Regions from separate parts of the Homo sapiens genome. Here regions 1 and 2 are each linked to region 3. Evidence: fine-mapped expression QTL. A gene starts in region 3. Each other region holds a variant in brackets. All regions are shown on one strand. Distances are from middle to middle.

The links. PIP is the estimated chance that this variant, and not a neighbour inherited with it, causes the effect. A credible set is the group of variants that fine-mapping cannot tell apart.
Region 1: its variant is the best candidate, but not a certain one, in a credible set for the expression of EXOC4 in breast (GTEx, PIP 0.84).
Region 2: its variant is the best candidate, but not a certain one, in a credible set for the expression of EXOC4 in whole blood (TOPMed, PIP 0.52).

The regions. Positions count from the first base shown.
Region 1 is chr7:133,815,784-133,820,783 of GRCh38, reverse strand. It overlaps EXOC4 (exocyst complex component 4), which reads right to left. Exons shown (of 18, transcript NM_021807.4): 11 at 3,240-3,459. The region is part of intron 3 of LOC101928861 (a long non-coding RNA gene); the gene reads left to right. Among named protein-coding and RNA genes, the nearest start is that of LRGUK, 310 kb to the left of the region's middle. The variant T/C (reference allele first, on the strand shown) is at 2,709.
Region 2 is chr7:134,071,147-134,078,850 of GRCh38, reverse strand. LOC105375514 (a long non-coding RNA gene) reads left to right here. Exons shown (of 3, transcript XR_007060531.1): 1 at 1-1,813; 2 at 2,932-3,056; 3 at 6,339-6,424. It also overlaps a transcript of EXOC4 not described here. Among named protein-coding and RNA genes, the nearest start is that of LRGUK, 52 kb to the left of the region's middle. RefSeq lists an enhancer at 7,160-7,259. The variant G/A (reference allele first, on the strand shown) is at 4,493.
Region 3 is chr7:133,248,152-133,255,438 of GRCh38, reverse strand. It overlaps EXOC4 (exocyst complex component 4), which reads right to left and starts at 2,361. Exons shown (of 18, transcript NM_021807.4): 1 at 2,252-2,361. The coding sequence starts at 2,337. RefSeq lists enhancers at 2,275-2,334, 2,545-2,594.

The sequences.
Region 1 (5,000 bases), 570 kb before region 3:
GAGACAGCTGTCCTCCCACCCTCCCTGGAGAATCCGGCTGGGCTGATGCTGTGTGACACTGGGTGTTGCCACAGGGAAAGGCATGTCCTCTCTTCTACTCTGTGACCAAACAACAGTTTAGCAAAGGGAAGAATTTTAAAGGACATTTTTATACTTCCTGTAATTGAATATTTAACCCACATGCATCTTTCACGCACACACATATTTCTCCAAGCTCCTTCTTAACATTTGTTTTGGATTCTCAGCTAAAATTTTTGAGAATTATTTCTTATTCTTTTTTCAGATTAGCCACCTACAATTAGCTGGGAATAAAATATTAAGGAAACATAGAAAAAATTCAAGAATAAAATTCACCCTGTGCTTGTAGAGGAAGACAAAAAAAGAATGAAGCTTGAGTATGGGGAATTATTAGAAAACAATTTACAATCACTATAATGCAGGAAAATACCAAAGATAGGAAAAAAAAATAACCATCTCCTTGTTTGCTTTTTAAACTGCATAACTCTCTCTGAGAATATTAAACAAACTTAGTGATATGGTTTAAATAATTTGCATTTTCATAAAATAAATTTTTTTAATGAAAAAAAGGAGAGCAACATAATCACCAAAAAAAAAAAAAAAAAAAAAAATGAAGCAGGTGTGTTAACTCTAGAAAAAAAAATTTGCAGGTTAATAGCTTGAATGGTCTTAGCCTCAAGACTTATTCACTTATATATAATTATATGTTGACAAGGTCAAAGAGAGAACAGGTAAAGCTGGAGTTCTTACCTAGCCTCACGGTGACTTAAAGGACAAGAGGCACAGTAACATGTACAAAATGGCGGTGATGAGGTTGGGAGTGATCTGACAGGCACATGGACAGACTGCCCAGATATGTCATTTTGTTGGTAGCATATGGCCTTGACATGGCCCAGATCAATGAGTTATGATTTTAATGCATCTTTGCTACTGAAGCTGCAAATTATCACATTTAATAAGCCAGTATTATTGGTTCACAGACTCACTCTGTAATGTACTGATGCCTTTTTTTTCCTTTTAAATTCAGTGCACTAAACATGTTCAAGTTGCTCTGTATGGCATATAGCGTGACACTTCAGAGAAATAAATACTGAAAGGCTTTCTGATGGAAATGAGGCTAATGATATGGTCAGACAACACATAAAAGTAAACATATTTTTGTTACTCTCTATTTCTCATCTCCTTATTCTGACTCTGTGGGTACTTATGACTCTCGAAACTTATTCACTGTATCCATCCATCCATCCATCCATCCATCCATGCAACATGCATTCATCCAGTAAGTTATTCATTGAGCACCTTCCTGCTGCCTGACATTATAATATGTGTTTGGAACTTACCTTCTAGTGGGAAAGGATAGAAAATATACAAGTTAGCAAAATTAATTAATAATTAGGGTTGTGATAAGTGTTAGGAAGAAAAAACCAAAGTGTTAAAATCCTGATTAACTGGGGAGATCTATCTGGGATCTTGACAAAAAAAAAAAAAGTATTCCATTTAGATAATTCAAATAAAGAAATATGAATGAAGAAATAACTTACAGAGGTATGGGCAGGGTTGAAAGCAGGAACAAGGGATACTGAGGCATCCAGAGGTTGTAACAGCAGAAAGCTGAAATCAAGAGGCAAGGAGAAGAAATGACATTGCCAGAGTCCAGTGAGAGCTGGAGCTATGGAGGATGTGTCACCTGGCAGGATCTCCTGTTATGGAGGGAGGCACTCACAGCCAGGGCCATGATCCAAAGTGAAGAGGAAGGGGAGAAGAAATCACCCACCCTCTTTCTCCTCCCACTTTCCAATCTTCTACTTGTGCTGCCTATCGGCAGAACCTGATCAGAAGCTACCTGGCAAGGGGGCCTCCATGACACAGTCCACAGACACAGTCCATAGGGTTTGGCCTCAGTATTGACAATGGATGGGGCTGGTGGTAAGGAAAAATGGGAGAATGGAGAATAACCAGGAAAGGGGACCTAATTAGGTAGGACAGTCAGGAAAAGCCTTCCAGTGGACATGACATTTTAAGTGACACCCAGAGAGGAGAAGACCCCAGCCATGCAAAGAGCCGGAAGAGATATCCAGCAGAAGGAAGAGCAAGCACGTTCCTTTGGCATTCCCCCTTCTCTGCACCCAACACTCAGTACAGATCCCTCACCAGGCACATGGCTAACAGAGACCCAGACCATCCAAATGAACATCTTCCTATTCTATTTTATCAATATCATAAAAGAGCTTGCTCATAAAAAAGAATGCTCATAACTAGGACGCTTCTCTAAGAAAGGTCCAGCACTTCTGTAAATTCTAACATACAAAGAAAAATCAAGGGAAACATATGTAAAGGCAGGTAAGGGCAGGCAACTGGAACAAGTAAAACTCCCTTCCATATATACAACTTCTCTTTGAAAAGCTCAAGCCTTCCACATGTTGAATAGTCTCATATTGTACAATTTAGGTAAAAGTGTGAGACTGTGCCCATCCTACTCTTAAATGAAGAAACACAATAAGGATTCAATTCCAACGTAATAATAGTTAATGTATACCTATAATTTAAACTCCTACTAATTTTGTTTTAGTTTTATATATACCTCCAAGTCACCAGCTAAAATGTATATAAAATATATGCCTCAAGCCTATTAATCAAAAAATCTACTGACAGATTATTTTATTTTTTCTGATGCTAAGAAACCATTTTTT[T/C]ATATAAAGTAAAATTTTCAGTACTAACAAGATCATCATGTGAATTCAGTGATTTGACTTTTAAAGGTCAGTTTACTGGTTCAAATTCCCTGTGAGGTAGCCAAGTCATTGAAAGGTAAGTCTGCCCCTAAAAGGTATAGAGGGTTTCCTGCTGGTAATTGAAGTTGGGCATCATAGCTTCCTTCCTGTTAATCCTTCATACTCAGGGATGCATTCACCAATGGAAAAATAGTTCCTTTCAAGGACCAATTCCAGGCATAATAATGAGGAACTGCCTGCATGTTAATGAGATTCACCATCTCTCATATCCAAAGCTAACCGTTTTTTTTTTTAATTTTCCTTAAAGATCTTAAGGAACTTCCATTATCCAACTACATTAAATCTAAATTTCCCTAGTGCCTATTTATTTTCTTTTGTTTTGTCCCTGATGAATATGGAAACAGATGGTAATTCTTCTTTTTTAAATTTATGACACTTGCCAAGTCAATGAAAATTGCTGATAAAAATAGTAAGTTCAAAGTGTATTATTACCTGTAGGAGAGGCCGCTGCACTCCCAGCACCTTCATGGTGTCTGCGTTGGCCAGAATCTTCAAAGGGTCAGATGTTTTAGTGACTCCTTCAATCTCCTTGTTGATCTCAGCCAAGACTTGATTGAGAAAGATGTTTTTGATGTACACGGTGAGAAACTCTCGAAGAGGACACTGTTTGGCTGGGCCAAGACCCAGAGCATGCTCAATCTCCTGAATAAATCTGGAGGACAAACAGTAAGAAGGTTATTAAATTTATGAGGAAAATGTTATATAAATACGACATGAGGACATGAGTATATCTAGTGTTGGCTATTTCTGTGAAGAGGGCAGGTCATCAATAATACTCATCTCTATATAATTTTTAATCTTGTAAAAATCTAAATTACTCCACTAATTGAATAGAAATAGGATGAAACAGAAAACATGACTTCTAAAAATGGGGGGAAAAGGAGAAGACAAAAATTATTTTTAATTCCAGAAGGAGATAAGACTACAAGAAACAATGGGAAAATGTGAAAAACAAAAAACACAAATTATTGTGAAATTAAAAAGCACATCCCCGAAGAGTACATATTTCCCACCGAAACCTTTACATCAGGGGTCCCCCTACCCCCACACCGGGCGATGAACCAGTACGGGTCTGTGGCCTGTTAGGAACCAGACCGCACAGCAGGTGGTGAGCAGCCAGCTGGGCGAGCATTACCACCTGAGCTCCGCCTCCTGTCAGATCAGCAATCACATTAGATTGTCATAGAAGCATGAACCCTACCGTGAGCTGTGCATGTGAGGGATCTAGGTTGCATGTTCCTTATGAGAGTCTAATATCTGACCTGTGGTGGAAATTTCATTCCGAAACCATCTTTCCCCCAACCCTTGTCCGTGGAAACATTGTCTTCCATGAAGCCAGTGCTTGTGCCAAAAAAGGTTGGGGATTGCTGCTTTACATGTATATATATAAATGTCAAAAAGAGAGAAACAGAGAGAGAATGAAGGATACTCTAAAATTCATGATGATATGTGAGTTCAGAGGTTAAGAAAGGGAATGGGATGGGAGTTGGAGGACAAAGGAGAACTTCAACCTTACTTGCAATGATCTACTTCCTCTATTAAAAACCCTTAAAGAATACATAACAGAATGTTAATGATTGTCAAGTCTCAGAGATGAGTATAGATTTATTAAAATTCTTATTTTAATAACAAAATAAATTTATTATTAAATTCTTTTTAATTTTCTATACAGGCAGCCCTGATTTGTGTGGTTTAATATGAACAAATTGAAGTTACTACTGTTTTTTAGTTAAATAACATCAGTCCATCAATTACATAGTTTAAATACCTCAATACCACAGTGTAGTCACCACAGTACATTAAACTTAAGTAACTAAAGTATAAACTTTGTTGGTAGCTCCTCTGAAATCCCTGTGTAAATAACTGATGTGTGTTCATCATGATTAGTGACCAATCACATCCCTTCTTCCAATGTCTATTAGCAACTGGTCACTGTGCATTTGTTATTCACTTCATGGACAGGGAGCAAAGCAAGCAGCTGTGGTGCCTCCCTGTCCCCCACTGATAAATCCATGTGGCATTTTATAAAAATGGATCAATGAAAGAGGGAATTGGCCAACAAAGATAAAAGTACCGCAAAGTGATAACACTGGAAGTGAAATTTGAACTGAATGTAAACGGAGTTACAGGAGAAAGAGCTGACCCTGGGAATGTTGACACTGCTGCCATTGGAGAGGCATAGCCAGACTGAAG
Region 2 (7,704 bases), 820 kb before region 3:
AAGTTCTATATCCCCTATGAAAATAATTTAATGTTTGCTGTTATCATAGATGAGTGAATTGCTCTTTAACTGCCAAGAGGCCTAGTACCTTGTGCTTTATTAGTCTCTTAAAGCTAGCTGAATTAACAGCATTTAAGTGTTATGTTTCCTCATTTTAAGATTGCAACTTCAAATCTCATTCAAAACCATTAACATTTACATCCACTGGGACATCAGAGAAATACAAGGAACTCTAAGCTGTTGGGGAGGAGGGTAGAAAAATATATTCTTTTCCCCAATCTTTTTCATGTTTTGGTGATTGGGCCTACGTTGTTAGAGGGTAAACACTTACTGCTGAGGATGGGTAATAAATGGTACTGAAATAGAAAGTTCCTAAGGAAAAAGGGGCTGGTCCAGTGAGATAATTAGACATCAGGATTTTGGAGCAGGGATGTGTGGCAACTTGTAGGGGGTTTTAAGCTTTAATAACAGTTAATTATTATAGACAGCAGATTTATAATCTCTATAATATTATAGATATAATATTATATATAGTTAACTATTATAGTTTTTTTTCTGTTTATGTGTTGGATTTACATAGAAGCTTTCCTGTGAGTACTCAGAGACACTGAATTAAGACCTATGTATCTGAGCTCACTAATACTACAGGAGTTCAAATAAATGAAAAAGGGGGGTAAAGCAAAAGACATAAATAAACTGGGGGGATCCAGGATTGCTCACTGTGATGGTTGATGCAGGAAATTAAAGAAAAATCAAATTAAAAAGAAAGCAAAATAAGTTTTCCTGTATTAGGCTGACTTGTCCCAGAGGCAGCAACAGGCACAGCCAGATCCAGGAAAAGTCTTGATAATATTATCTAATGTGCTCTGGAGACTCTCCCAGCACTCCCTCAACATAAGGAGAAGAAAAACAAATTTTCCTTTGTTTTATGGAATGAGTTTATAGATTCCTATTCTCTGTAACTAGTGACTTCAAGTATTCTGTTTTATCTAAGAAGTACAATGAAGGTCATGAGGAGCCTGAGTAGGCCTGAACTACAGCTGCCTGGGCACCATAGTGAAGGTTACAGGATAAGCCTGTGCTCAGACAAACCTAGATAACAGACATCTGGGTTGCTTGGCAACAGTCATGTGCAATCCTGTCTTTGTCCTCCCTCTGTATCCCTGCTTTCATGCCCCTGTAAGCTTGCTTTAAGCTAGCCCACCCCCTTTTGTGAAGTGTGTATAAAATTCAGGTGCGGTCTTTGTTCTGGGCCCAATTTTTTGGAGGTGAGTCAGCTGGGCCTGAGCGCACTCAATAAAGATTCTCCTGTTTCAACCTGAGGTCTCTCTCGTCCTCCTGAATCCCGCAACAGTGGTTAGTTTTATATGTCAACTTGACTGAGCTAAGGGATGCCCAGATAGCTGGTAAGACATTATTTCTGGGTTTGTCTGTGAGGGTGTTTCTGGAAGGGCTTAGCATTTGAAGCAGTAGGCTGTGTAAAGATCTGTCCTCACCAATGTGGGTAAGCATCATCCAATTTGTTGAAGGCCCTGATAGAATAAAAAGGTGGAGGAAGGACAAGTCTTTCCTTCTTTCTTTGAGTTGGGACATCCATATTGTTCTGTCTGTAAACATTGGAGCTCTTGGTTCTTGAGCCTTTGTACTCTGAGACTTAGACCAGTCCCCCACCTTCAACTCCCCCACTGAAAGTTACACCACTGGCTCTACTCGTTTTCAGGCCTCCAGACCTGGGCTGAATTACATCACCAGCTTTCCTGATTCTTCAGCTTGCAGATGGCAGATTAGGGAACTTCTCAGTCTCCATAATCATGTGAGCCAACTCCCATAATTCTGTCTCCTCATCTCTCTCTCTCTTGCTCTGTTCTCTCTATTATACACACACACACACATATGCAGATCCTCAACTTATGATGGGTTTATCAGGATGTAAGTTATGGAGTGTTACTGAATGAATATTGCTTTTGAACCATTGTAAAGCCAAAAAATTTTACGTCCAACCATTGTAAGTCATTGATCATCTGTATATGTAATTCTAGGGGTGCAAAGATTCCATGTATCTGCTGAGTTCTAACAAGGTTAGCACAAAAAAGTGAAGAATATTTGTTGTTCATTTATTGAGATATACATATATATATATATATACAATTATAGATGATAGTTTTTTCTATGTTAGATATATATTTATATATTTTTTGTTTATATGTTGGATATGTACATATATGTTAAAGAGAGATATATATATATGCTATTGGTTCTATTTCTCTGGAAAACCCTGGCTAATACACTCCTTGAGTGAACAACACATACTTGTTGCTTCTGTCTTTTTTTTTGAGACAGAGTCTCGCTCTGTTCCCCAGGCTGGAGTGAAGTGGCGTGATCTCGGCTCACTGCAAGCTCCGCCTCCTAGGTTCACACCATTCTCCTGCCTCAGCGTCCCGAGTAGCTGGGACTACAGGTGCCTGCCACCACGCCCAGCTAATTTTTCTGTATTTTTAGTAGAGACGGGGTTTCACCGTGTTAGCCAGGATGGTCTTGATCTCCTGACCTCGTCATCCACCTGCCTCGGCCTCCCAAAGTGCTGGGATTACAGGTGTGAGCCACTGCGCCCAGCCTTGTTGCTTCTGTCTTTAGGACAGACATGTACTGACTGAGGACTTGTTGGGAAATCACTATCTTTTCTCATCCTTCAGCCTCTAAATTTGGCTCTTATTCTCAATCCTCCACTCAACTAGTTCTCTTTAAAGTCAAAATTTCATCCCTCATTGAAATTCCCTTGCTCTTTCTGCTCTCCTCACTGTGATCAGCCTCTTCGTTGTGTGTATCAGTCAGGATAGGGAGGGTTAGGCTGCAGTAACAAACAATCTCAAAATGTCAATGGCTTTAAACAACAAAGATGTATTTCTTACTTACCTCATATGTCCACTGCAGGTCAGCTGGGGCTCTGCTCTGCATCTTCCTCCCTCTGGAACCCTAGCTGAGTGAGTGGTCACTATCTGGAACATTGCTGGCCATTGTGACAGAGGGGGCACTGAGCTCTGGAGGGTTTCACACAGGTAATTAAATGGCTTTGGTTGGGAAGTGACACCCTTCTACTCATAACTTATTGGCCACCTAATCCCATGGTACCACCCAAACACAGAAGAGCCCTGATATGGTTTGGCTGTGTCCCCACCCAAATCTCATCTTGAGTTGTAGCCCCCATAATCCCCACGTGTGGTGGGAGGGACCCAGTAGGAGATGACTGAATCATGGGGGCAGTTTCCCCCACAATGTTCTGCGGTAGTGAATAAGTCTCATGAGATCTGATGGTTTTATAAGGGGTTTCCCCTTTCACTTGGCTCTCATTCTGTCTTACCTGCTGCCATCTAAGACAAGCCTTTTGCCTTCCACCATGATTGTGAGGTCTCCCAAGCCATGCGGAACTGTGAGTCCATTAAACCCCTTTTTCCTTATAAACTACTCAGTCTTGGGTATGTCTTTATCAGCTGTGTAAAAACGGACTAATACAGGCTCAGAAATGCAATCCTACTATATTCCTGGAAGAGGGAGAGCAAGATATATTGAGAACCTAATGAAAACCTCAGACCTGATTTCATATAATGCACTTATACACCATCACCCCAAATCACCCATGCTGTATGCATGTAATTCTAGAGGGTTCAAAGATCCCATGTATCTGCTGACTGCCAGCAAGGTAAGAAAAAAGAAGTCAAGAACATCCAAAATGTGCCAGGCCTCCTGCTAGGCAGGTTTGCCTTGGCTAGTTTTCATGACTGCACTGTGCTGATCCTCCTCATACTCCTGAGTTTTCTTTTGCTTCACTTTCTTTGCTTACTTTTTTTTTATACTGTGGAGGTTGACAAACTGCATACCTTCATCTCAGCCCTCACATTGATTCTCTAGCTCCACTTGTTTTTCAAGACCATGGTCCAGTTCCATTTTCCCAGTTAAGTTGTATTTGACTAACGATAGTCTACAATCATTATTCGTTTTACTGAGTTCCTCAGAAATGCTCCGTGAGCCTTCAGTGGTACACTGGCTTACGATACTCCATAGTGGATTCGTGTGTGTTGCCCTGTTCTTTCCATGCGACATTCATGTCTTTGAAGGCAGGACCTTGCCTCTATCCCTCCACTTGGCAGTCTAACAGCATGATTCACCTGGGGGCTCCCAAATGCAGGATCCTGGGAGTGGCAGTCGAGACCTGGATGCTGGTCCTGGCTCAGACATGAACTAGGCATCCCCACTCTCCTCTTGGGCCTCCTCCCTTTGCTCCTCTGGCTCCTTTGAAAAATGAGATGGTTGGGACGGAAGCTCTCTCAGGTTCTATCCATTTCTATGAATCCACAACAGGTGTTATTGAGAAAGTAATTGATGCCAACCCCCCACCCAAAATTAGGATAAAAGATTCCCACTGCCACCCTATAGGGTTACCTGGGGATTGCTCTTGAGTCCAGGCTCTCTTTATCCTCAGAAGTCTGGTTAACAA[G/A]CTTCTTGTTTCAGGGCAAAAGAAAAGAAAGGGGAGAAGAAGGGAGGGGAGGAGAGAGAGAAAACTTATCTTCACTCAGATAATCCCTCCAGCAGCCTATTGTTTTGAAAGGTCTAGGCCCAGGGAAGGAGGGTTTGCTCTCCCAGTGGCAGAAAGGAAAGAGACTCTGGGGTCAGGAGGAAAGAGGAGAGAACTGCCCAACCTGGAGTGTTGGGTCCCCCAAAGCTGAGAAGAGACAAGGGCTGTAGCATGCACGGTAGCTCCACGACATCCAGCTCACAGTGCCCACAGAGGGCAGGACCTCGTGTCAGGCAACTGTGAGGGATGCCTGTGGTGGATGGACACTGAGGCCTGGAGGTCCCCGGAACAAAGCCTGGGCACACTAGAAAAGACTCTGCCTGTGGAGGGCAGGGCCTGACGACAGCACCAGACAGTGTTTAGAGTCTTCACTGTGTCGCAGAAGGAGCCCGGGGAAAGAGTGATCAGGATGCCCTGATGACGTAGTGCTCACCCCGCTCTCCTGACCTGCTTCAGCAGCAGGGTGTTGGTGCAACCTGAAGGAGGGGAAGCCTCTCACCAAAACCCCCATCCCCTGCCTGTGAGTAAATCACAATGACTGGAGTCGGACTTCTGCTGAGAATGGTTAAGTGGGGGCTCCAAGCCAGATTTGATTTTTAAAAATTAAAAAAAAAAAGAATGTGACATTTTTCTCACCTCAATTTCATAGAGCAATTTGTGAACTTATTAGAAATCCATGGGCTGACATTCCTCAGCCAAGGTAGAAAGAGTAACAGCAAACTCAAACCTCAGGCAGAAGGCCATTACGTCTGTGAAGGTCTGGTCCCTAAAGGGTAGTGGAGCCTTCAGAGTTAATGAGATGCACATAATATGCTGGCAGGCAACGAGATGCAAAACCCTCGCTAATAGCTAAAATGGAAGCAGGCTTAAGGAAGCAGACACTGAGGGCAGTCGGCATGTGTGGGGAGGGGGCTGAAACAATCGTGTAAGATCAGAACGTCCAGTTTCTATGATGAGGATGGATGGTTCTGGGGGCCTTTAGGTGTCCACATACAGCAAGTAACAGTCTTGGGTCCACCCTGCCATAGCCTGGGGCCTTTCTTTGTTGTTTTTTTTTTTTTTTTTTTTTTTTTTTGAGAGGAAGTCTCTCTCTGTTGCCCAGGCTGGAGTGCAATGGCATGGTCTTGGCTCACTGCAACCTCCATCTCCCAGGTTCAAGCGATTCTCCTGTCTCAGCCTCCTGAGTAGCTGGGATTATAAGCACCCGCCACTATGCCCGGCTAACTTTTTGTATTTTTAGTAGACATGGGGTTTCACCATGTTGGCCAGGCTGGTCTCAAACTCCTGACCTCAAGTGATCCACCTGCCTCGGCCTCCCAAAGTGCCAGGATTACAGGCATGAGCTACCATGCCCAGCCTAGCCTGGGCCTTTCTAACCAAGAAGCGCTGTAAGCGGGGCTGCACTCTTACACTTCAACACAGCAGGCTTTCTTGATAGTGTGTCTGAAACTCCTCAAAGAAACAGACAGGATATTATTTGTTATGTATATATAATACTAATGACATGCCAGGCACTGAATGCCTCTGTTGGACAGGAGCTATTAGTATCACTGTTATCCCATTTCAAAGATGAGGCAACAGAGGGCATTTTTAAGCACTTGTAACCACATCAAACCACCTGCAAAGTTGATGGTCTTCAGGACACGCTACTCCCAAATCTGGCACCTTAGCATAGCGAACAGTTTAAGCAGAAGGAATTTGAGAAACAGCATGTTCAGGAAGGTTTCTCTGACCTCCCCTGGCCATTCCTCTTCTTTCCCCTCTGCAGCAGGTCCTAAAACCTAGGAAGACTTTTCTGACCTTCCCCTGAAGCAGGCCTAAGACCCTCCTGTGAGAGACCAGGCTGGGCGATACAGCGAGACCCTGCCTCGAAAACACCATCACCACCACCACCACAAACAGCAGCAAAACCCCACCCAGGTTTAATTACTTCTTCAGGTCTTCATTTTTTTTCATGTATAACTTACATTAAATAAATTAGTATGCTTTCTTCTTCTTAATCTGTCTTTTGTTACAGGGGTTCCAGACAATGAACCTAAGATAGATAGAAGGAAAAGATAAGTTGCCTCCCCTATGAAGGCTAAGGCAACATGTTGAGCCAAGATACACCAGATTCTAGAACCTGAGCATTTAGCTTCAACCTCTTGGGGTTATCTCCAGCCTCCAACTGGTGGGGGGTCAGCCCCTGAACCAAAGGTTTGTGTTTCCAAGATTTCTGTCAATGTACTGGTCACAGGGATGGGCTCAGGCAGCTGTGGGTGGAGGAGAAGCAGAGAGGAGAGTGGGCAATGGTGGCCCCAAATGTGGTCCAGAAATGGTTCCTGCTGGAGGTTACAGGAGAGGACAGGGTGAATGGATGAGTCAGACTACCAGTATCACTTGGGGCTCAAATATAGCATGTGAGAGTCCCTGCCTTTGCCACACTAGACAAGGGGGTTTGGCTCAAAATAGCACAGAGGGGGGTTCTGTAGCAGTGAGAGAAATCTAGCATAGTTGACTCCATCTTGCTTCTAACCCCCAAGCAAACTGCCTTTGCTCATTCCTGCATGTAGGCCCAGCTAACTATGGGAGGAATTTAGTGTATAGCTTAACTTTAAAGCAAGGATGATAATAGGGCCTTCCCCAAACTAACCCCTGAGGAGATAAGAAGGGCATACACCCAAGAACAATGTTATGCTAAAGACTTGTAGGAGTGCTGTGACCTGAACAAAGAAAAAGAAGTTATGAAACTCCCTCAGACTCTTGCTGACACCCAGATGTCTGTGGTCACCTGTCACCTCCTGACCTTAACCCCCTCCTTGTTCCCTTTACCCAATATAAAAAGAAGCTTGAGATTCATACCTTTGAAGATGGTCCTTTAGGACACCAGTCTGCCATCTTCTCAGTTTGCTGGCTTCCTGAAATAAAGTCACTTTCCTTTATTTGGAAAGAATAGTTGAGTATGTCTTGTCTTATTGGCTGTTGTGAGACGAGTGGTATGAGCTTTGGATTTGGCTACGGTTCCAGAATGAACTCTGGTGTTGGGCAGAGCTGGCTCACTTACCAGATCTGGTGCAAAGCCCTTAATCCGAGCCTTAGTTTCCTCTGTAAAGTAGGGATGATAATAATATACATCTTGTAGGATTATTGTGAGG
Region 3 (7,287 bases):
TTTTGGGAGGCCAAGGCAGGCAGACAACAAGGTCAAGCGATCGAGACCATCCTGGCCAATATGGTGAAACCCTGTATCTACCAAAAATACAAAAATTAGGTGGGTGTGGTGGCGCACGCCTATAATCCCAGCTATGCGGGAAGCTGAAGCAGAAGAATCACTTGAACCTGGGAGGCGGAGGTTGCAGTGAGCCGAGATCGCGCCACTGCACTCCAGCCTGGGGACAGAGCAAGACTCTGTCTCAAAAAAAAAGAAAAGAAAAGAAAAGAAAAGCAATATAATGCACAACAGAGATCAAAGTAAAAAATACCTAGGCCTAAATCACAGTGATAAAATGAAGGTCATATATTAATAAACTGGCATAAGAGATGGATGGATAACCACAAAATCTTAGCCATCAAGCAGTAGGGGGTTCCTCCTGGAGAATATTAAGGAATGGTCAAGCAAAGGCAATGTATGTTCTGAATTAGCATTAGTAAAAAAAGCTTTAGGTTGGCTTTCATGCTGTTTTCAAAAATATGACATTTAGAGTAAATTCAACTGGCCCTGAGGAAAATACAAATAGCATAAAAGAAATGGGAACAGCCTGGAGAATCAAAAGTACACAGATGAGATGACACATTTCACTTTCATTAGAAACAGCCACTCCTCCTGGATTTCCATAACATTTCATGTCTCTCTCGTAGTCTTATGTCATCATTTTTACTGACATGTTTTATCCCCCAGGTAAACTATACTCTCCTCAAGGGTAACACTGTGCCTGCTTCATCTTTGCAAAACTCAGGGCATTTACTCATTAAGTCAACAAATATTATTCAATATGTAATACGTGCCAGACGCCATACTGTCAACTGGCACTAAATACCTATTGTTTAAATAAATGTTGACTATAAGGTAGAAAAAACAAACAAGTTCAAAAAAGGATCCAAATAATGTCCTGGTATTCTAATTCCACAGGAAATTCAGATGGGAAACAACAAACATTCTTATTGGAATTTTAGTATCATGAGATACATCTACACTACCTGCGTATTGTCACAGCGAGAATGTGGGCCTATAGATTCACAATACAACAGCACTTCCTCTGTATGGCCTACCAAGTATATTAAGCATTTCCACACAGAGATGTTTTTCTCTTAAGCCCAAAAGAAAATTAAAGTAATGATTTAATAGGCCATAATCTTAAAGCCTCCTAAATAAGACCCATAAGATGTGTCTTTGTCAGTGAGTGGTAAGCTGTTCTAATGGTTTGATACATGCATTCATTGAAGTGCTTAGTACCTACCAGATAATGTTGGGCCCTGGGTTTTGAAAAGATGATCAATACATTCCAGAAAACTTGCAAGAACTCAAACAAAAGTTTAGTATAGGTGGGGAAAAATAGAGTGTTTGTTTATGAAAAATAAACGAGTTGAAATTCAAATGCCAACAACGTAAAAAACGTGCCATAATAAATTTTATTTAGATTGGTTTTAGTCAGTACCTGCATCATATCCAAGATTCTTGAAAGGGTTCCCCCATCCTCAATATATTTCGCTTTTTTAAAAAAAAGCTCCTAAAAGATCCACCGCTCCCACTCCACCCCCACCCTAATCTTCTGGGAGGTGCAGAGGGGCAGTGCATGGAGGATAATTTGAAATTGGTTTGGTTCTGTTTTTTAAGGAATGGACCAGAATGCGGAGGCAGGGCAAAAAATTGAAAACCGATGTGTGCCTTCAAACCCAGTCCTCCTACCAGCTCACTGCAGATTCTTGTATTTGTGGCTGTGGCCACGCACAGGTGGTTGAAAGTATCCAGAGTGTGAAAACACAAATCTGCAACTCGTGACAGGAATCTCCGGACTCCAAGGCCTTACACCCCAAAGTCCAGGAAACAAGACGCCTTTCTCAGTGAGTGCTGCTACAGGCAAACAATAAACAAGCATTTTAGGAATCAATAAACACACCTTTACACCTGGTTTTCTCTACCAAACCCAAATAGCGTGCTTTGGGGTCCCGAGACTGTAATAGAAGGTGCTGCCCCTAAAGAAAAGACTGAGGCGGGGCTCCTCTCTCTATAGCTAACCCCAGAAAAAAAAGGTGGAGGGGGAATTGCTGGGGCCCTGGGGAGGGGTTAGAGCCCTGGGGAGGGGCTGCGGGAGGCAAGGAGGAAAGGGGAGAGCAGGGTGGGACCCAGCTAACCCTTCTCCCTTCCAAAGCGGAGGTCGAGCCGCTGCCCCCAGTCCCCAGACCCTGCCTCCTGCCTCCCTCACCTGATCACAGAGATGAGCAGCCCCGAGGGGTCTTTGCTTTTGCTGACTGTGCTTCTGTATTTCCCACCAGCTGCTTCTGCCGCCATCTTGGACGCGGGGAGAGCCGCTAGGCTCCAAGGAAGCCAAGGGTGCGTAAATTCTGTATTTGACCCCGCAGGAGTCTCCACCAATGGGTGAAGAGAATTCCAGAGGCGCGGAAGTGGAAAATCCAATCACTGAAGTGAGGAGGCGGGACTAAGGGAGCAAGTTTTGAGGCCACGACGCGCGTGTTCTCTCTAAGCACTCTGGGAGTCGTAGTTTTCCTTCTCCGTCTCCTGGGCGCGCAGGAAAGCTAAACCAGCTGCAACTTCCTAAGTCTTGTAATGAGTGTCTTCATTTATCTTTATTCTGACTTCCAGCTTTTTTCAGTTTCCTTGCTTTTAGAATTTTGTCAGGCTTTAAATCAAATTTATCTGATGATGCCAAAATGTGTTAGGGTTTGTATTTAAATGAAAGAGGGGTTCTCTGCCGGATGTCTATGTGCGAAGTTTTTGCCTTAAGTGCAAGTGATTTTTTAAAAAATCCAATAAAATACGAAAATGAATATAAGCAGAAATGCTTTTCTTTAGTATTCTGTAAAACTAATGTTTCTACATTAGGTTTATGTGGAGTTCAATTTTTCCCAATGTTCCTATATTTCCAGATAGTTCTAAAACCACACGTACAGGAATAAATGAATATTGATGAAGAAAAGACAGTATAAGCTAAAAACAAACAGACCACACTGCAGATTCCTTTTTTTTTTTTTTCAAGCTAAATGAAATACTTAGTAGTAATGCACATTTGTGTTAATACTTTTACCGGTAAGTTTTTAGTATTTCCTGCATTTGGTTCCGTTGGCTTAGTCATTAATTCATAAGACCAAATGAACAAAACAAAACAAAAAAGACCAGAATGTGCGTGGAAAGTGGTTAGACTGAGGAACAAGAATAATAATAATTTAAAAGTAAGGAAGGAGGTGGCCTGCTCAGTAGCAATAAAGATTGAAGAACTTAAAGGAATAGAAAGCAAACTAACTCAGAGGTCATGGAGTTGTGAGCAGCAAGCTCAGAACACATCAATTACTTTTATTAAATAGACATCGAGCTGGTAGAAGTTCACATTTTTAAAAATTAGTTGAAGATAACACACACACACACACACACACGATAACTTAAAAGTATTCATAACCTTTGGCCCAATAATTCCAGTTCTAGGGACTTTGTTCCTAAAGAAATATAGAGTATTGACATTTTTTAAATAACACAGAAGAATTAAATAAATTATGTAACATTCAAATGAGGAAATAACATATAGCTTCTGGAAATCATAATTTTAATGGCTTTTAAAGAAAATAAGATTTTTGGGCCAAGTGTGATGGCTCACACCTGTAATCCCAACACTTTTTGAGAGGCAGAGCCGAGCAGACCACTTGAGGCCAGGAGTTTAAGACAAGCCTGGCCAACATGGTGAAACTCCGTCTCTACTAAAAATGCAAAAGTTAGCCGGACCGTGGTGGTGTGTGCCTGTAATCCCAGCTGCTTGGGAGGCTGAGGCATGAGAATTGCTTGAACCTAGAAGGCGGAGGCTGCAGTGAGCCAAGATCGTTCCACTGCACACTGCACGCCAGCCTGGGCAACAGAGGGAAACTCTGTCTCAAAAAAAAAAAAAAAAAAAAGATTTTTATGGTATAAGTACAAAAACTGGGCTATAAAATTAAATAATTCATAGAGAAAGGGAGAGGCAGTTGGGCCTAGTGGTTAAGAATGCAGGACAGGCCGGGCGCCGGGTGGCTCATGCCTGTAATCCCAGCACTTTGGGAGGCCGAGGCGGGCGGATCACGAGGTCAGGAGATCAAGACCATCCTGGCTAACACGGTGAAACCCTGTATCTACTAAAAAAAAATACAAAAAATTAGCCGGGCGTGTTGGCGGGCGCCTGTAGTCCCAGCTACTCGGGAGCCTGAGTCAGGAGAATGGCGTGAACCCGGGAGGTGGAGCTTGCAGTGAGTCGAGATCGCGCCACTGCACTCCAGCCTGGGCGACAGAGCAAGACTCTGTCTCAAAAAAAAAAAAAAAAAAAAAAAAGAATGTAGGACATAGGATAAAAAGTGTGTGATCATCTCAACTGTTGCAGAAAAAAGCTTTGTCAAAATCCAAAACACTCTTACAATAAAAACACTCAGAAAACTAGGGATAAAAGGGAACTTCTTATAGGCTATAAAGGGTACTTATGAACAACCCACAGCAATCATCATAGTCGATGAAAAACTGAAAGCCTTCCCACTAATATTAGACACAAAAAAAGGATAACCATTTTTTTGCCACTTCTATTCAACAAAGTACTGCAAGTTATAGCCAGAGCAATGAGGCAAGAACATGAATAAGTCATCCAGATTGGAAAGGAAGAAATAAAACAATATCTATTTTTGGATGATATGATCTTATATATAGAATATCCTAGAGAATACACACAAAAAACTATTAGAGCTAATAAAATATTCAGCAAAGTTGCAGAATACAAAATCAATAGCAACAGAAAATCAGTGGTATTTCTGTAAACTGGCAATAAACTATCCAAAAAGGAAATTTACACAACAATTCCATTTCCAATAGCAGCAAAAAGAATAAAATGCCTACGAATAAACTTAGCCATGAAAGTGAAAGACTGCTACACTGAAAGCTACAAAACATTGCTGCAAGAAATACAAGAAGACTCAAATAAATGGAAAGACATCCATGTTCATGGGTTGGAAAACTCAATATTGTTAAGATGGCCAAACTCCCAAAGCTATCTACAAATTCAATGTAATTCCGATAAAAATTCACTAGGCTTTTTGTGCAGAAACAGAAAAACTGATCCTGAAATTCATACGGAAATTAAAAGAGCCCCAAATAGCCAAAGCAATCTTGGAAAAAAAAAAAAATCAATGTGGAGGTCTCACACTTCCTGATTTCAAAACTTACTAAAAATCCGCAGTAATCAAAATAGCATGGTACTTGCATAAAAATAAACACATAGATAAATATAGTAGAATAAGCCATACAGAAATAAGCCTATTCATCTATGATCAATTGATTTTCTTTTTTTTTTTTTTTAGACGAAGTCTCTTTCTGTCACCCAGGCTGGAGTGCAGTGGCTCAATCTCAGCTCACTGTAACCTCTGACTCCCAGGTTCAAGCAATTCTTGTGCCTCAGCCTTCCAAGTAGTAGACACGGGGTTTTGCCATGTTGGCCAGGCTGTTCTTGAACTCCTGACCTCAGGTGATCTGCCCACCTCAGCCTCCCAAAGTGCTGGGATTACAGGCATGACCCACCGCACCCAAACAGTCAATTGATTTTCAACAAAGCTGACAGTACCATTCAATAAGGAAAGAATAGTCTCCTCAATAGATGGTGTTGAAAACTGGATAAGCATAAGCAAAAAAGTGAAGATGGACCCTACCTCATACAATATGCAAAAATTAACTAAAAGTGGATCAAAGACCTAAATATGAGATAAAACTCTTAGAACAAAATACAAGGGTAAATTTTCATGATTCTTAGCTATGACATCAAAAGCATAAGCAACAAAAGAAAAAATAGGTATATTGGGCTTTATTAAAATTAAAAACCCTCATACATCAAAGTACACTTTTCAAGAAAGTGAAAAGACAGGCACAGGATGGGAGAGAATAAAAGCAAATCACATACAGTATCTGGTAAGAGTTCTGTATCTAGACTATGTGAAGAACTCTTACAACTCAACACAAAAGGAAATAAAAATTAAAACCTAGGCAATGGATGTGAATAGACATTTCTCCAAAGAAGATACACAAATGGCCAAAAAGCACATAAAAAGATGCTCGACATCATTAATCATTATAGGAAAATGCAAAACCATAATGAGATACCACTTCACACCCACTAGGTTGGTTACAATTTTTTTAATGGAAAATAAATGTTGGCAAGTATGTGGAGAAACTGGAACCCTTGTACATTTATTTTGGGAATGTGAAATGGTTCAGCCATTGCAGAAAACAATTTGGTGGTTCCTTAAAAAACTAAACATAAAGTTACCATATGACCCAGCAATTCCGCTCATAGGTATATGCACAAGAGAATTGAAAACAAGTGTTCGGAAAATAACTTGTATACAAACATTCATAAAAGCACCATTCAAAATAGCCTAAAGGTGGAAGCAGTCCAAATGTTTAACAATGAATGAACTGCAACAATATGACTGTATCAGTGTGGTATAAACAAAATGTGCTATATCCATACAATGTAATATTATTCACACATAAAAATGAAAAAAGTACTGATATATGCTACAATATTGATAAATCTTGAAATCATGCTAACAGAAAAAAGCCAGACACAAAAGGCCATATTGTGTATAACCCCATTTATCTGAAATATCCAGAACAGACAAATTCATAGAGACAGAAAGCAGATCAGTGGTTGCCAAGGGCTGCAGGGCAGGAAGAAATGAGGAATGACTGCTCAATGGATACAGAGTTTCATTTTGGAGTGATGAAATGTTCTGGAACTACAGTCAATGGTTGCATAGCTTGTGAATGTATTAAAGGTCAGTAAATTATAAACTTTAAAGTAGTCAAAAGTCATAAATTTTATGTTATGTGTTTTTCACCACACCTTAAAAAAAAATGCAGTTTGTGTAGCAGGATGGCCTAGATTCAATCCCAGCTTTCCACTTCCTGGCTAGATTACCTAGGACAAGTTACTTAACTTTACTCTGCCTCAGTTTCTTTATCTGTAAAGCAGGTGGTCATTGTACTTCACATAGAGAGTTATTGTAAGAATATGTGAGATATACATTATCAGCACTTGGTAAATATCAGCTATTATTACTAAAGTATGGTACTAATTTTGTTGAAAATACATCTCTGGGGTTATTGCAAAGTTGTTTTGAGCGTCAATAACATGGGTAATTTTTTTTTTTTTTTTTACACTTTTCTGTGTTTTACAAAGTTTCCGGGATGGGCACAGTGGCTCATGCCTGTAATCCCAGCACT